Linked DNA regions of Homo sapiens. The protein of the gene in region 1 purifies or fractionates together with the protein of each later gene. This does not show direct contact. Each region holds a gene or a part of one and is shown on either strand. Other genes may lie near its edges.

Evidence for each region. Proteins that work in one complex are often made in the same cells at the same time.
Region 2: the proteins of ACSL1 (region 1) and ZDHHC20 fractionate together in Homo sapiens (co-fractionation; one large-scale study listed by BioGRID). This does not show direct contact.
Region 3: the proteins of ACSL1 (region 1) and TPM4 fractionate together in Homo sapiens (co-fractionation; one large-scale study listed by BioGRID). This does not show direct contact.
Region 4: the proteins of ACSL1 (region 1) and BDH1 purify together in Homo sapiens (affinity purification with mass spectrometry, with the first as the bait; one large-scale study listed by BioGRID). This does not show direct contact.

Annotation. Positions count from the first base shown.
Region 1 is NC_000004.12:184,762,485-184,767,599, forward strand, and holds part of ACSL1 (long-chain-fatty-acid--CoA ligase 1), read right to left. Parts: intron 4,273-5,115; coding exon 4,138-4,272; intron 3,503-4,137; coding exon 3,407-3,502; intron 2,442-3,406; coding exon 2,369-2,441; intron 772-2,368; coding exon 683-771; intron 40-682; coding exon 1-39. UniProt on the Homo sapiens protein: Catalyzes the conversion of long-chain fatty acids to their active form acyl-CoAs for both synthesis of cellular lipids, and degradation via beta-oxidation. Preferentially uses palmitoleate, oleate and linoleate.
Region 2 is NC_000013.11:21,449,304-21,453,610, forward strand, and holds part of ZDHHC20 (palmitoyltransferase ZDHHC20), read right to left. Parts: intron 1-4,307. UniProt on the Homo sapiens protein: Palmitoyltransferase that could catalyze the addition of palmitate onto various protein substrates.
Region 3 is NC_000019.10:16,099,688-16,103,502, forward strand, and holds the end of TPM4 (tropomyosin alpha-4 chain), read left to right. Parts: intron 1-1,576; coding exon 1,577-1,659; 3' UTR 1,660-3,315; downstream 3,316-3,815. UniProt on the Homo sapiens protein: Binds to actin filaments in muscle and non-muscle cells. Plays a central role, in association with the troponin complex, in the calcium dependent regulation of vertebrate striated muscle contraction.
Region 4 is NC_000003.12:197,531,969-197,536,275, forward strand, and holds part of BDH1 (D-beta-hydroxybutyrate dehydrogenase, mitochondrial precursor), read right to left. Parts: exon of another isoform or gene 2,222-4,307; coding exon of another isoform or gene 2,127-2,221; intron 1,594-2,126; coding exon 1,521-1,593; intron 555-1,520; coding exon 444-554; intron 1-443.

The DNA of each region.
Region 1 (5,115 bases):
CAAGTAGCCCTGAAATACATTTGGCCCTTTCACACACACCTAAAGAAAAGAAGATCATCAGTGAACAGCATTTACTGGGGTTTTTCCAGAGAAAACTGGTGTGTGCATGTGTGTACGTGTGTGTCTGCCCCAACCTTTAGCTGGAAGCCCTAAACTCCAGGATGCAGAGGGAGTTACCAGAGCCCCACCAGGGTCTGCGAGAGATCTCCAGTGCCCCTACTTCCCTTCCTGAATTACCTCAGCTCTGGCCGATTTGTAGGGCAAATGCTTGCCCTAGGTTCTGGCTCAAAGCTGTTGGAAAGCCCCGCAGGGGATGAAATCACTTTTAAGTAATTAGGCTTCCCATCCAGCAGCCAGCAGCTCACTAATAGGTACCCAGGGCAATCAACAGGCAGGACCTTCGTCCCAGGAACTGAGGCCACCGGGCCTTTCTTTGCAGGCTCTCCAGCCCAAATCCCTATGAGGCCTGGCAGAGGAAGACAGGCATCAGTGTCCCTCCTGCCCACTCCCCGAGAGCTGAACATAAATGTACCCTCAGAAAGAAGCCTGGCAGACTCCAGGATCACCAATGAAGTCAAGTTCAATGGCTTTATTGAGCTGTTGGGAAATACCACAGCATTCGCAAAGGCCAGCGATCACAGGAAATGGCAGCGAGGGAAAATGACTGACGGTTTTCACTCACCTCGCCCTCGCCCTCGGCAGCCATGTAATTCATTTCTTCCACATCAACAAGTTTTATCAAATTGCACGGCATCGGGGCCCCAACATGGCCTGTATATTAAATAAGCAAATGGTCATTCCTAAGGGAACTACTCATAACCTCAGGTCAAATTATTTTGATAGCAAACAGGATTCCACATAAGAAAAACGGCTGGGATAAACTTCTGATTTCTGCAATTACAGCCATTCTCTTCCTAGTATAATTTAAGAGAGTCTATTCTTAGACTAGGGAAGAACATATTTAGTGTCTTCAGGACCTTTTCCAAGTGTGATGCTCTGAGTTATTTATGAGTAATTTGGCCTCTATGTGAAGGTTCCTACAAACACCTGGAAGCAGCCTCTCTCAAACCTTCACTCGGCTTCCACCCTCCGATCGCCCCCACCCATTACTTGCACTCATCTTACACAGAATTCTTAGCATCCTGTTCTCTGTAAGAAGAGAGAACATATGCAGCTTTGGCAAACCTCACGCACCACCTGGTTCTGATCAACACGGCCTTTATTTCCTTGCGTATGAAGAAGCATGTCTTACAGTTTTTACTAAGACGGGACAGTGCTTATTTCTACAGCTAACTTAACTCTCTTGCCAAAGGCTGTTAAGACTGGGCTGTCTTTTCCAAAAGCAGCAACAACAGACATTAGATATGTTAGATATCACATTAGATATCACAAATAATTCTTCCTATGTTTTAATAATTTGAGCTTCTAGAGATCAGTATTCCAAATTCTCTGTTAAGGAAACTGAGGTTAAAAATTAAACAAATACCATAAAGAAGATTCACAGACTGTCTGCGTTAATTCCAGGACAATGATGTTAGTGGACAGTGCTAGGTTCTAGAATATATGTTACTAAATGGTGCTAATACTTATAATACTCCAAATAAGCTGGGAAGTTTATTTATCACAGTGTAGAATTTACTACTCAGGTGACACAGAGGAAGCACAGAAGCTCTGCAGTCAGGCCGGGGTTGAAATCCTGGCTCCAAAGCATAATGCCGCGTAAATTCTCATACATCATTTATGTGTTACTTAAGCAACAATCTATAATTTCCTCTGAGAAGTACCAGAACTTATCTCACAGGGACACTGTTGGGGTTACACTGACATTAGGTACATCCTAAGCACCCATCACAGAGGCTTACCCATGACAGATGCTCAATTATTTTTGTTTGTCCTCCTCCTTTTTCCTTTTGAGAAATGACTTTTTGAGAAAAAGGACTTGTATTTATTCCTATTGGTAGTCCCAACACCTAGCACAGCACACAGTACAAATTCAATAACTATTTGTTGTTTAAAATGACCAGCAAATAACGAGACCCTACTCAATTACTAGGAAGCTCTGTTGGGCCAGACACTCTCAATCTGGAACACAGGGCCCCTCTCAGATGTCACTAGTAGAGTCTAGGCAAGTCTCTGCTGCCACCAGCTTTACAGTCAGATCCCCAGCGCCACCCCTCAGTTGCAGGAGGTGTTCTCCCCACAGTGCCCTGACTTACAAGAGTGTTTGCCCCCAGAGCCTAATGATCAGAAACATAGCACTTTTGTTTAAGATGGTTAATGAACCAGTCAGTGATTAACCCAATTCCAGACATACCAATAACCCAGTATGAATAACAAAATTCCAAAAAGGAGCCTCCTACAGCCATACCTGCGGTCCAGTCTCCAGGCATGGTCAGGCAGCACCCGGCAGTGCACTCTGTCTGTCCGTATCCTTCATAAAACTGGGGCACCAAGAGATGCAACATTATTAAGGAGAGCACAATCACACCTTTACTGGAAGTGCACAAGCAATGAAGTCTCACTAACTCCCAAGTCATGGCTGACTGGTGAAATCTCATTTCAAATGGTCTGTTCAGTAAGTTCATTCAATGGTCCAGTGTGCTTTACGCCAACACCAGCCGTCACCCAGGTACACCTTCTATTTAACTTCCAGTGGCCAAGCGAGGGAGAACCCCTATGTGACTGGTCACCACCCAGCAGCAGTGAACTCCCTTGGCCAATTCACAGGACATGTACCCCACACATGCCCCGTCTGCCACCAAATCCTCCTTTCTCCCTTTACTACAGGTTGTCAGCATGGTGTGCGGGTAGGCTCATCACCTGTGACCCATTCCACAGCTGCATACCTGCTTCTAAAGGTTGTCTTGCACCTGATCCTAGAGAAAATTCAACAAATGGCAGACACACACATTCCCCTGCCTAGGGTAAAAAATATACATATGGTTGCTTCTCCAAGCAACCTAATAATAACATATCTTCCAAACAAACATAACACACACACACAAAGTAGGGGGTGGGAAGGATAGGGGTGATGTTGGTGAAAGGACACAAAGTCTCCATCAGGAGGAACTGGTTCAAGAGCTCCATAGCACCACGTGGTGACTAGAGCTAACAACAATGTATCATATACTTGAAAACTGCCCAGAGGGTAGATTCCAAGTGTTCTCACCACGTGGGAAAAAAAAGTATGGGTGGTAAGACACATGTTAATTAGCTTCATTTAGCCATTCCACAATGTTTACATATTACATACATCAAAACATCATGTTGTTACGCCATAAATATAGATACGCTTGTCAATTAAGAAAGAACACACACACACACACACAGTACAGATGACTTTTGGTGCAGAAGAGGACTGGGCATCCTAGTGTGGGAGAATCAGGCGCCGTGACATCCACCTCACCTGACAGCCCAGGGCTGCTCTGAGGAACGTCAGCACAGTGGCAGACACCGGGGCGGCTCCTGTCACCATCAGCCGGACTCTTCCGCCCAGGCTCGACTTTCAGGGAGGGAGAGTGGGAGAAGGTGAGGGTTACACACCTGGAAGTCGGCGGCCTCTCCGCCAAGGGGGCCTGCTTGGGACCCCGTTCCCTAACCCATAGCTGCAGACCACACGGAGGCCACACGGAGAACTCACAGCCCTCATGATGGCAGCACAGGGCTACGGTTTGTTTCCACCCGTGACTGCCCTGTTCCCTCCCAATGGGGATGGAAGTCAGCCCCACCTCTGCAGAAGCTATTTCAGGGAATTAGAACACAACTGGGCAGATCTGTGGCAACTACCACAATTCTGGCCTTCTGGGGGGCATGATATTGTTACACGTTATCACTCATGCTTGAAAAATTACCTCAAGAGTGACACGCTTGTTCCGGAAAAACGCAACAAAATGGAGAATGAGAAAGGCTCCACTACCCTGACTCCTTTTCCCCCTAGATGGCTGCAATACTATTGATCTTAGAAACTGAGGCCTCCTTAATGGCTTTGCCTTAGTTTTTAAATGTGTGCCAGAATTAACAAAAACATGTTATTCTCTCCCTTACCTTCATCTCTCCCTCTCACAAAAAAGGCCCTCCCAGAACTCTGAAAAGCGAAGTCGGTTTCCATGGGAGCAGTGGCTGTGAGTCACGTGTTACCTGTACTTTGTGGAAGATCAGCCGGTCCCACAGGCTGTTGTTTCTGATGATGCCGCTGCGAAGCTCTGCTTCTTTCCTCTTGGAGGCAAAGTCCAAGAGCCATCGCTTCAGCGTGGTGTTTGCTTGTCCGAAAATCTAATGAGGCAAGACATGAGAAAGTTTTCACACCTACTAGGATGGCCAGAGTCAAAGAGTGTGGAGAAATCAGAACCCTCACACACAGCTGGGGAACACAAAATGGCACAGCTGCTCTGACAGCCTGGCCGGTCCTCTAACGGCCCCACATGGTCAGCACAGGACAGCAATTCCACACCTCGGTATACACCCAGGAGCAATGGACACATACATCCCCAAATGCCCATCGAGTAGGAATGTGTAGGCCAGGTGCGGTGGCCCACGCTTGTATTCCCAGCACTTTGGGAGGCTGAGGTGGGCAGATCTCCTGAGCTCAGGAGTTTGAGTCCAGTGTGGCCAACATGGTAAGACCCCATCTCTACAAAAAATACAGAAATTAGCCGGGCATGGTGGCACATGCCTGCGGTCCCAGCTACTCAGGAGGCTAAGGTGGGAGGACTGCTTGAGCCCTGGAGGTGGAGGCTGCAGTGAGCCATGATAACACCACTGCACTCTAGCCTGGATGACAGAGAGAGAGACCCTGTCTCAAAAAAAAAAAAAAAAAAGGAATGGATAAATAAAATGCGTTATACCCATACAGTGGAATACTATTTGGCCGTTAAAAGGAATGAAGTGCTAATACGTGCTACATGGATGCTTGTGAAAGACGCCAGTCACAAAGGAGCACATATGGCATGATTCCATCCACAGAAAAGTCCAGAATAGAGAAATACACAGATGAGCGGATGCTGAAGGGTGGAGGGGGTCGGGGAGCTGATAAAGAATAGGTAAGGGTTTCTCTTGGAGGTCATGAAAATGTTCTAAAATTGATTGTAGTGATGGCTGGAGAACTGTGAAAGTACT
Region 2 (4,307 bases), on another chromosome or scaffold:
ATGATCAGCTGGAATGTTTCTCTACTAATAGCAGTCATCAGGCAGCTCGAATGGGGTGGGAGTCTAAAATCGCCTTGTTCACACATTAGGGGTTCTGGCTTCTCTTGGCTGGGCCTCTTCTCCATGTGGTCTCTCACTCAGCAGTCTAGTCTGGACTCCTTACATGATGACGGGAATGTCCCAAAAGAGCTAAGGCAGAAGATGTCTTGAGGCCTAAGTTCCAGAACTCACATATCTACCACATTCTACTGGCCAAAGCAAGTACAAGGCCAGCCCAGATTCAATGGGCGGTAAACAGACTATTTCTTGATGGAAGAAGGTACAAATTATTATTATTATTATACTTTTTTTTTTTTTTGGAGACAGAGTCTCACTCTGTGGCCCAGGCTGGAGAGCAGTGACATGATCTCAGCTCACTGCAACCTCTGCCTCCAGGGTTCAAGCGATTCTCCTGCCTCAGCCTCCTGAGTACCTGGGATTACAGGTGTGTGCTAATTTTTGTATTTTTAGTAGAGATGGGGTTTTGCCACGTTGATGAAGCTGGTCTCGAACTCCTGACCTCAGGTGATCTGCCCACCTCGGCCTCCCAAAATGCTGGGATTACAGGCGTGAGCCACTGCACCCAGATGGTGCAAATTATTATAGTCATGTTTTTCAATCTATTACACTAAGCAGTGATCATGGTGGTTTAAAGGAGTGTAACAGTTGCAGTAGTAGTGGTGAGAAGCAGCTGGATTTTAGACATTTAATGACAGAACAAGCTGATTATCCAGATGGAGAATGACTTTTCAACCCAAGAAGTAGAAGGATACAGCTGTCATTTACTGAGCTATTAGGAGCAGCAGGTTCAAGGGAGAAAAAAAAAGAAAATCAAGAGTTTTGTCTACAATGCCTATTAGATCTCCAAGCAGAGATGTCAAGTAAACAGATTAGAGTCCGGAATTCAGCATACTACTACTTCTCTGCCGGAAAGGGAGCGGGCAGAGAAGCAGCCAGGCTTTTACTTGCATGACTAGGGCATAAGGTTCTTCTGAACAGTCTGACTTGGTTTCTAGGTTGTCCAGCATCTTTCTCTTCCACATTTCTTGTCTTTCAAGAAAGCAGGGAAGCCCCAGAGAAGGTTGAGTTTATGTGGGGAAATAAAACAGATCTTTTTTTTCATTTGATTTTAGGTGGGTTTTTAAATATATATATTTACAGAGCTCTCTCAGACCAGTATGCTATCTGGTAACACAGAAAATAATACCAGGACAGATTAACTCACTAGTAGTCATGAGAAAAAAAACTTTTTCTTCAAAAATAACAAAAAGTAAAAGAGAAGGCTAAGGTAACTGCAGAATTCAAATAAACAGGTCTTCTGGCCACTGTATCTTTCAAAGGCAAGTTATCTAGAAAATTACTACACTCTCGCATCTGAAAATAGATGCGAAATGATAAAATTAATAAAAAGGTGGTTTTTTTTTTTTTTGGAGACAGGGTCTCACTCTGTAACTCAGGCTGGAGTGCAGTGGTGTGATCATAGCTCACTGCAGCCTCGAAATCCTGGGCTCAAGTAATCCTCCTGCTTCAGCCTCCCAAGTAGCTGGGACTACAGGTGGGTACCACCATGCCTGGCTAATTTTTTATTTTATTTTTGTAAAGGGTATTGCTATGTTGCCCAAACTGCCCTTGAATTCCTGGCTTCAAGCAATCCTCCCACTTGGGCTTCCCAAAGTACTGAAATTATAGGCATGAATCACCATGCCTGGCCAAAAGTTTTTTGTTTTTAATTCTAATTCACATTTAACTTTTCCTATAAGTATGCCAACCACTGAGGATAAGATTTAGGGAAATAGGTTTTTTAAACCATGTCGGCATAATTTCAAAGAATCACTGTTTCATAACCCAAAACAAAGACTGTATGTAGGACCAATAAGCCATTTCACGTAGCCTTTACCACTAAAGATTGTGAAATACATGTTTTGTAACTATAATTAGTATTATTATTCTAGATGTTTGTGTGTCCTAACATTCAAACACGATTCAAGTGAGTTTACAAGAGTATGATTCAATTCAATTCAAGTTATATTAATTTAAAGTCTACTAGCACTAGGCTCTAATGGATACAAGAACAAACAGGACCCAATTATACTATAAGTCTTGTAAGCAGGATTATTCAGGTACATAAATAAATATAAGAAAGTGCATACTTTTAATTTATATTCTAATTCAATGTACAAATGATGTGAGGAGGCTTACTAGAAATATATTCCTAAATAAAACTGTGAATATGTTTTGAAAACAGAAAAATACAAATTAGGATGTGAAGTGAAGAGTAGGGGAGAAATACTGATACATAATACACAGATGAACCTCAAAAACATTATGCTATGCAAAATACACCTGACAAAAAAGACCACTTATTGGCCGGGCACGGTGGCTCAAACCTGAAACCCCAGCACTTTGGGAGGCTGAGGCAGGTGGATCACCTGAGGTCAGGAGTTCAAGACTAGCCTGGCCAACATGGTGAAACCCTGTCTCTACTAAAAATACAAAAAAAAATTAGCAGGGCATGGCGGCACACACCTGTAGTCCCAACTACTTGAGAGGCTGAGGCAGGAGAATCGTTTGAACTCAGGAGGCGGAGGTTGCAATGAGCCGAGATCACACTATTGCACTCCACCCTGGGCAACAAGAGTGAAGTTCCATCTCCAAAAAAAAAACAAAAAAACACTTATTGTATGATTCCATTTATTTTTTTCCCTTTTTAAATTTTTCTTGGTTTTTATGCTAATCTTCTCTGTACTCTTCCAATTTTAGTATATGTGTTGCAAGCATGTATTATTCCAGTTATATGGGATGTTCAGAAAAGGCATTTGGAGACAACATGGATTAGTGGTTGCCTTGGGCTGGGGGTGGGAAGAAGGATTAACTGTAAATGGGCATGAGGGATCTTAATGTGCGACAGAAATTTTCAAAAAACGGATTGTTGTGATGACTGCAAAACTTGGCAAATTTACTAAAAATAACTGCATTGTACATCTTAAATTAGTGAATTTTATGACATGCAAACTATGTCTCGATCAAGTTGTCTTTAAAAACTAAAGGCAAAATTAAAACTTTTACAAACATACAAAAACTGAAATGATTCAGTCCAGCTGACTTGCACTACAATAAACGTTAAAAGAGGCCCTTCAGGCAGAAGGAAATGACACTAGATGGATTTACAAAAAGGAATGAAGAGAACTAGAAATGGTAACTATAGGAATAAATACATATATTTTGGGTTTTTTAAACCTAAATCTTTAAAAACTATTAATATAATCAACTGTTTAAACATAGTAGCAATACAGTGTGAGGTTTACAACATATAAAATGCACCATAATAGCATAAAGGCCAAGATGGAAGAGATAGAAGTATACTTTTATAAGGTATTATATATGAAACAGTACGTAACTTGAAGGTAGACTGTGATAACTCAAAGACACATGTTATAAGCCCTAAAGCAATCAATAAAGTAACAAAAAGAATTACTAGTAATATGCCAATAAGGAGATAGAATCATTTTTAAAAATCAAAATTAAAAAAATTGTAAAGATCAATTAATTCAAAAGAAGGTCAAAGAAGGAGAAAATGGAACAAAGAAGAGGACAGACAATAAAACAAAAGAGCAAATGATAGACTTAAGCCTATATCAATAATCACATTAAATGTAGATGGTCAAAACCCCCTATTAAAAGGCAGAGATTTTCAGGTTGGATTTTAAAAGACCCAAATATATGCTCTTTACGAGAATTACAATTTAAATATAAGACACATACACATTAAAAGGACAGAGAAAGATACATCATGCTCACAATAATTAAAAGAAAGATTAGTGCCCATGTTAATATCTGCCAAAGCAGATTTCAGAGTAAACAATATCACCAGGGGTAATAAAGTCACTTCATAATGTTAAGTGAGCCAACTGGTCAATAGGATATTGCAATCCTAAATGTTTTATGCACCTAATTACACAGATGTAAAATACGAGGCAAAAACTGATAGAACTACAAGGAGAAATAAATCACAATTATAGTTATACCTCTCTTAATAACTGAGAGAACAAACAGGAAAGCAAGAAAATAGAGGACTTGAATAACACTACCAACTTGCCTTAACTGACATTTATGGAGCATTATGACATAACAGAATACTCCACCCAGCAACAAACAGCACAATACATTGCTGAGTACAGACATATTTTTCGTAAGCACACATGGAACACAGCTCAGACAGACCACATTCTGGGCTATAAAACAAGCCTGAATACATTTTAAAGGATTTA
Region 3 (3,815 bases), on another chromosome or scaffold:
CCAGCATTTTAATGAGTCTTGGCCTTGTCCCTTATCAGCCATCACTTACTGCAAACTAAGTTCTCTCTCGTGCTCTGTCACGCATAGCTCTAAATGGCGTCTTTTTTCTCTCTCTCTTTCTTTTTTAATTTAAATTGTTTCATCAGCTCAGTTACTTAATAACATGCCTGTAGAATGGCTTAAATTTCGCATTTACCTGGGGTTTGTCTCCGTTCTCCTGGATTCATAGACAGTTACACAATTATGTGTATAATTTAAACAGCCATTCCCAGAAGCTCCGAAGGAAAGATGGGTTACAGGATTTTAGATTTAACTATCAAAGGCTCAGGGGCTAATTAACTAGCACTTGGGTGGAAATTTATATTAAGTCACACATATCTAGGACTGAAATCTTCATGTAGCAGCACGTCATAGGTTCTGAAGTATTTCTCCTTTATTCCTCATCATAACCCCCACACCACGCATTGATATCGTTACCCCCATTTGACAGACGGGGAAAACAGACCTAGGAAGGTTAGATGCTTACTTAAGTGATACAACTGGAGCTTAAGTTCAGGTATTCTGACTCAAGGGTTACCAGAGTTCACAAGGAAAAATACAGGACACCAACTTAAATCTGAGTTTCAGATAAGCAATGAATAATTTTTTAATCATAAGTATATCTCTTGCATAAGTACATCTCATGCAACATTTGGGATATACTTACACTAAAATATTATTTGTGGTTTATCTGAAATTCAATTTAACTGGGCGCCCTGCATTTTATCTTACAACTGTGACTCCCAAATTTGGTGCTTGTTCCTTAGTATTCTGTGATGTTCTGCTGTAATTAAAAATACAAAGTACTGGACAGGCATGGTGGCTATAACCCACCTGTATTCCCAGCACTTTGGGAGGCTGAGCAGATGGGTTCCTTGAGCCCAGGAGCTCAAGACCAGCCTGGGTAACATGGTGAGACCCTGTCTCTAGAAAAAATGCAAAAATTGGCCAGGTGGTGGCATGCACCTGCAGTCCCAGCTATGCGGGAGGCTGAGGTGGGAGGATCACCTGAGCCCAGGGAGGTCAAGGCTACGGTGATTCGTGATTACGCCACTGCACTTCAGCCTGGACAACAGAGTGAGACCCTGTCTCAAAAAAAAAGTACTTTCTCTCTTGTGACTTTCACCCTGGCAGTTTCAGGTTTAGAAATCTTTGGGGGGGTGCTGGGCATGGTGGCTCACACCTGTAATCCCAGCACTTTAGGAGGCCAAGGTGGGTGGATCACTTGAGGTCAAGAGCTCGAGACCAGCCTGGCTAACATGGTGAAACCCCATCTCTACTAAAAATACAAAAATTAGCCGGGTGGTGGTGGCACGCGTCTGTAATCCCAGCTACTCGGGAGGCTGAGGCAGGAGAATTGCTTGAGCCTGGCAGGTGAAGGTTGCAGTGAGCCAAGATCGCGCCACTGCACTCCAGCCTGGGTGACAGAATGAGACCCTGTCTCAAGAAGAAGAAAAAAAAACAAATCTTTTTTTTTCTTTCATTTAACAAAGACGCTTATTAATTTATCTTTCCCCATACTCTTAATCCTCACCAGAGAAACTTGCCCAGGCCAAAGAAGAGAACGTGGGCTTACATCAGACACTGGATCAGACACTAAACGAACTTAACTGTATATAAGCAAAACAGAAGAGTCTTGTTCCAACAGAAACTCTGGAGCTCCGTGGGTCTTTCTCTTCTCTTGTAAGAAGTTCCTTTTGTTATTGCCATCTTCGCTTTGCTGGAAATGTCAAGCAAATTATGAATACATGACCAAATATTTTGTATCGGAGAAGCTTTGAGCACCAGTTAAATCTCATTCCTTCCCTTTTTTTTTCAAATGGCACCAGCTTTTTCAGCTCTCTTATTTTTTCCTTAAGTAGCATTTATTCCTAAGGTAGGCAGGGTATTTCCTAGTAAGCATACTTTCTTAAGACGGAGGCCATTTGGTTCCTGGGAGAATAGGCAGCCCCACACTTTGAAGAATACAGACCCCAGTATCTAGTCGTGGATATAATTAAAACGCTGAAGACCATAACCTTTTGGGTCAACTGTTGGTCAAACTATAGGAGAGACCAGGGACCATCACATGGGTAGGGATTTTCCATCCAGAGCCAATAAAAGGACTGGTGGGGGCCGGGGGTGGCTATTGTGGGAAGTCATAACCCACAGATAGATCAACCTAAGAATCCTGGCCCTTCTCCACTCTCCACCATGCAGGACAAACATCTTCTCAAGCAGTCAACGTAGAATGCTTGGGAAATAGTCATAATTACCCACATATAGTAATTAATAGATGGTAATTAATTGATCCTTGATGTGATGTTCTTTTGCATATTTCCTTCATTCTAAAGTTGTTCCCTGGCCGGGAGCGTTGGCTTTCGCCTGTAATCCCAACACTTTGGGAGGCCAGGACAGATCACTTGAGGTCAGGAGTTCGAGACCAGCCCAGCCAACATGGCGAAACCATGTCTCTACTAAAAATACAAAAATTATGGTGACGCCTGCCTGTAGTCCCAGCTACTCGGGAGGCTGAGGCAGGAGGATCGCTTGAACCCAGGAAGTGGAGACTGCAGTGAGCCGATATCGCACCACAGCGCTCCAGCCTGGTCGACAGAGTGAGACTCCATCTCAAGAAAAAATAAAAATAAAGTTGTTCTCTGAAGAGCAAATGTCTCATTCCAGTAATGACCCACTCAGCAGGAATATGGTGGAGTTCAGTCCAATTCAGGTCAGCCATATCCAAAAGACCACAAGTCATTACTAAGTTGAGCAAAAGAGTTTTTATCTATTAGCAGAAAGGGCCTCTCTGGCAGCAGAGATTAAAAACTGGCCCAACTTCATTTCCATACTTCAGGGAACAGCAAATTGAGGATTTACTTATCTAGGACTTGAATTCCTTCTTTGGGACCAAGTTAATAAAAGACCAAGAAACTCCTGATTAAACTGGATAATGAAGGATTCTGTAGACAGGGCTGCACGTATCGGCTTTGTTTGACTTCTCTTTTCTCAGTTAACATCTCAGAGCTAGAACATTCCACATTCCCCAGCAGCGTGTGGGGGCTGACTAAAGTTTACAATTCCAACTAAAAATCACCCTGCTTCTGGCTTATCTGAATCCCTTACCCACCCCACCCCACCACCCTACTCCTATTTATTCAGCACCACACTACCCAGGAAATACACTAGCAAATTGTGCAATGGAATAAAATCCACACTTTAGATTCTTGCAACTGTATCATATGTAATAGTATCACTTTTTCTACATTTTGGTCAAATAAATTTTTACATAAACTACAATTTGCGTGAATTTTAGAATGTGTGGGGGTACACAGAGCATTTTGGTTCAACAAATGTTAAAGGGATGGAAAGGGAAAATAACCAGAGCCAAGAATGTAGACAAGGTTATCTATTTGCTTTATACTGTGACTTCATGATACAAGGATATTACAGTCTCATTGCAGGCGAGAGCACTCAGCCTCGGTCACTCGAAAACTCCTGGCCTTCCTTATCCCCTACGCTGCCTAAGCCAGGCTGTGAAGAATGAGTAGGATTTTAAGAGATAAAAGCAGGGAAAATCATCTCTGTTGCCTGAGTTAGGAAGATCTGCCTAGCTAAGGCTGAGTTACACATACAAAGGAAAGCAGACCAGCATGGGCACCATAGTGAGACCCCGTCTACAAACAATAACAAAAATTTGGCCAGGTACAGTGGCCAAATTACACCTGTAATCCCAGCACTTTGGGAGGCCGAGGCTGGCGGACCGCTTAGGGCCAGGAGTTCAGGACCAGCCTGGC
Region 4 (4,307 bases), on another chromosome or scaffold:
CCAGAACAAATGTCACTTCCTCTGGCATGCCATCATCAATCCCTTCCTCCTACACAGTCTCGCCGAACATTCTCGCACACCCCTGAGAATCTGCTTCACTCGAATTCTTCAGCTGTGTCTATGCATGGCTGTCTCCTCACCACTCGACAGGGAGCAACTTCAGGGCAGGGACAAGGTCTCATTCTTCTACTGCACCTAGCAAAGTGTCAGGTACATCATAGCATTTGACGAATGATGGATAGATGAGAGGATGGATGGATGGATGGATGCATGGATGATGGATGGACAAAGCTATGAAGAACAAGTGGGACTGAAGCCGATGGAAAATGGACAGGCTGGTTTAAGCAAAGGTGAGCCAGTTGTTAGGAAAGCACTTTTTAAAAGACTAAAAAACAATGACTATGTGTAAAAGACAATGGTGAAGAAGATAACTCGTCTCTTACCTTCATCAAGCAGCCAGCAAACACAAGGAAGCCTTTTGAATGCAGATGCTTGGCCAATGAGAACCCAAATCCAGAGTCACAGCCTGTGACCAGGACAGCTTTGCTGCCAACCTGTTTTACAAGGTCAGATTCCATGTTAGGAACCGGTGGTACAGGGGCAAAGTGACCAGGCCTCTCCACCCTCTGTGCAGTGAGAGTTAGTGCTTCCTGAGTGGCCCAAGCCTGGCCCTCCCTACCTTGTTCTTGTTGTCTGGAGAAGCACCATGGTATAGTGGAAAGGCCAGGTTCTAACCCAGACTCGGCTACCAACCAGCAATGTTGCTTGGGAAAATTACTTCTGCCTTCAGGATCTCATCTACAATCCCCCATGCTACATGTGAGAAACAGAGGTCTTTTTAAAACGCTCAATGTAGCTAGTGATAGAGCTGGAACTGAAACCAGGGCTGAGAGATTCCAGAGTCTAAACTCTTCTTCTTTTTTTTGAGATGGAGTTTGGCTCTTGTTGCCCAGGCTGGAGGGCAATGGCCAGTCTCGGCTCACCGCAAAACCTTCACCTTCCAGGTTCAAGCAGTTCTCCTGCCTCAGCCTCCCAAGTAGCTGGGATTACAGGCATGCACCTCCACGCCCGGCTAATTTTGTATTTTTAGTAGAGATGGGGTTTCTCCATGTTGGCCAGGCTGGTCTTGAACTCCCTACCTTAGTTGATCCACCCACCTCGGCCTCCCAAAGTGCTGGGATTACAGGCGGGAGCCACCGCCCTGGGCCTCCGGAGTCTAAACTCTTAACCCCTAACTTGCTGGGTGGGGCTGGGAGTTCTCGCCCCCCACCTAGGCCTCCAGTGATACCTTCCTGGCTGGGAGGGGCTGGAGTGCCTCATTACTGCTTCCTCCCCACATGGATGGGGGTGTGTGAGCTCATTACTGATGAGGGGCTTTGGGGGAGGGTTAAGTGAGAAAGTGGCTCCCAGTGTCCTGGAAACACTAAGGCCCCACTCTGAGGGTAGCTCAGGGCCTAGGGGCCCAGAAGAAAGGGTTCTGACCATCCAACTGGCTCCCGGGTAGCTGGGCTTCCACTCACCGGCTCCGCCGCACTGGCATAAGTCCGACGGCCAATCGGGATAAAGGAAGTAGAACCAAGCAATAGTGGGCGTCTGCAAGAGAAAAGGAAGCCGTGAGTACAAGGACAGACTAGACAGACCCTCAGCCACACTGGCCTAGAGCAGCACTGGGTGTCTCTCCAGCCCCGGCTCCTGGAGACAGCTTGCTGGTACAACTGAGTAAGAGGCCCTCTTTCCACCAGGGTTGCTGGCTGATAGAAAGTGAGCCAGTATTTGCTATGGCTATGTTTGCCACTGTCCAGGAAGAGCCTTCCTGAGAATAAAGCCAATTCTGAAGCTACTTTTGTTGGGCAGGCTCTGCTAAACCCTGGCCATCCAGTGTCCCACTCCAATAAAGTTCCATTTTCTGCTTTCCAAGATGACATGGATAGGTAATGTTTCAAGCTAATTCAAGTGTGAACTATCCTTGTAGTAGTATAGCTTTGTTAAAGCCTGCTGCAATTTTGATGTCTTAATCCACAGTAGGCTAAGCTTCCTGAGAGTTACTTCAATCATACTTTTTATTTTGAAATAATTGTAGATTCACATGCAATTAAGAAATAATACAGAGAGATGCCAGGTCTTACCTCATTTCCCCTAAGGGTAGTATCTTGCAAAACTGTATTACCATATCACAACCAGGATACTGACACGGATACAATAAAAATACAGAAATTTCCATCACCACAAGGATCCTTCATGTTACCCGTTTATAGCCACACCTACTTTCTTCCCACCCGGCTCCATCTTTAACCACAAATCTGTTCCCCATCTCTGTAATTTTAGAATTTCAAGAATGTTATGTAAATGGCATCATACAGTATGTATCCTTCAGGGGCTGGCTTTTTTCATTCAACATAATTCTCTGGAGATTCATCCAGATTGTTATGTATCAATAATTTGCTCCTTGTTATTGCTAGGTAGTGCTCCATGACACAGGGGTATGACAATTTGCTTAACTATTTACCTACTGAAGGACAGCTGAGTTGTTTCCTGTTTGGGCATATTATGAATAAAGCTGCTTGAACATTCCTACACAGGTTTTTGCGCAAACGTTGAGTTTTCATTTCTCTTGGGTAGGTGCCCAGGGGTGTAATTGCTGGGTCATATGGTAGTTGCAGGTTTAGTTTTTTAAGAAACTGACAAACTGTTTATGAAAGTGGCTATAGTACGCTACAGCCCCAGTGGCAGTGTCTGAACAACCCAGTTTCCCCACAGCCTTGTCGGCATTTGGTGGTGTCACTATTTTCTAGTTTAGCCATGCTGAAAACTGTATCATGATATTTCGCTGTGGTTTTAATCTGCATTTCCCTAATGGCTAATGATGTTGAACATCTTTTCATGTTTATTTGTCACCTGTCTTAGTCTGTTTGGGCTGCTATAACAAAATATCATAGACCGGGTGGCTTACCAACAACAGACTTATATTCCTTACAGTTCTGGAAGCTGGGGAGTTGAAGTGCAAAGTGCCAGCAGACTGTGTTTGGTGAGGGCCCACTTTCTTCATAGACAGATGTCTTCTCACTGTAACCTCACATGGCAAAGGTCTCTTTTATAAAGACACTAATCCCATCCATGAGGACTCCACCTTTATGACCTAATCACTTCCCAGGGCCCCTGCCTCCTAATACCAATACCTTGGGGGTTAGGATTTCAACACAGGAATTTGAGGAGAATGCAAACATTCGGACCATAGCACCCTATGTTTGGTAAAATGCCTCTTCATGTCTTTTGCCCATATTCTATTGAATCGTTCATTCTTCTACCCCGTTGAATGTTGAGAATTCTTCAGATGTCCTAGCTGCTAGTCCTTGGTTACATATGTGGTAGGCAAAATTTTTCTCCTAGCCTATGACGTGCCTTTTTATCCTCTGTAGCAGGGTCTACTGCAGGGGCAAAAGTATTTCACTTGGACTCGGAATCAGGAAACCAGGGGTTGTAACCCAGACTCTGCCACCAACCAACAACGTTGCTTAGAGAAATTACTTCTGCCTTCAGGATCTCAGTGTCCTCGTCTACAATCATCCATGCACCACGTGGGACAACAGAGGAATTTTCAATGCCCAATGTAGTTAGTGATAGAGCTAACTAGTGAAACCAAGGCTGAGAGAGTCCAGAGTCTAAACTCTTAACCCCTAAATAAAGTCTAGTATTTTCCTATTATGCGGCATGCTTTTGATGTCAAGTCTCAGAGCTCTTTGCCCCCAGGACCCAAAGATTTTCTTCTATGTTCTTTTCTAAAAGTTTTATAGTTTTGGCTGGGATGGTGGCTCATGCCTGTAATCCCAGCGCTTTGGGAGGCTGAGGTGGGCAGATTGCTTGAGCTCAGGAGTTCGAGAACAGCCCGGGCAACATGGCGAAACCCCATCTCTACAAAAAATACGAAAATTAGTCAGGTGTGGTGGCTCACGCCTTTAAGTCCCAGCTACTTGGAAGGCTGAGGCAGGAAGATCAACTGAGCCCAGGAGGCAGAGGTTGCAATGAGCTGAGATTGCACCACTGCACTCCAGCCTGGGGGACTGAGGGAGACCCTGTCTCAAAAAAAAAAAAAGTTTTATAGTTTTATGTTTTACTTCTTAAGTCTATGATCCATTAATTTTTGTATAAGACGTCAGACTTAGGTCTAAGTTTTGTGTCCATTTGCTCCAGCGCCATTTTTTGAAAACGTTATCTTTCCTCTATTGAATTGCTTTTGCACTTTTGTCAAAAATTGGTTGGGCATATTTGGGTGGGCCTATTTCTGGATTTTCTATTTTGATTCATTGATA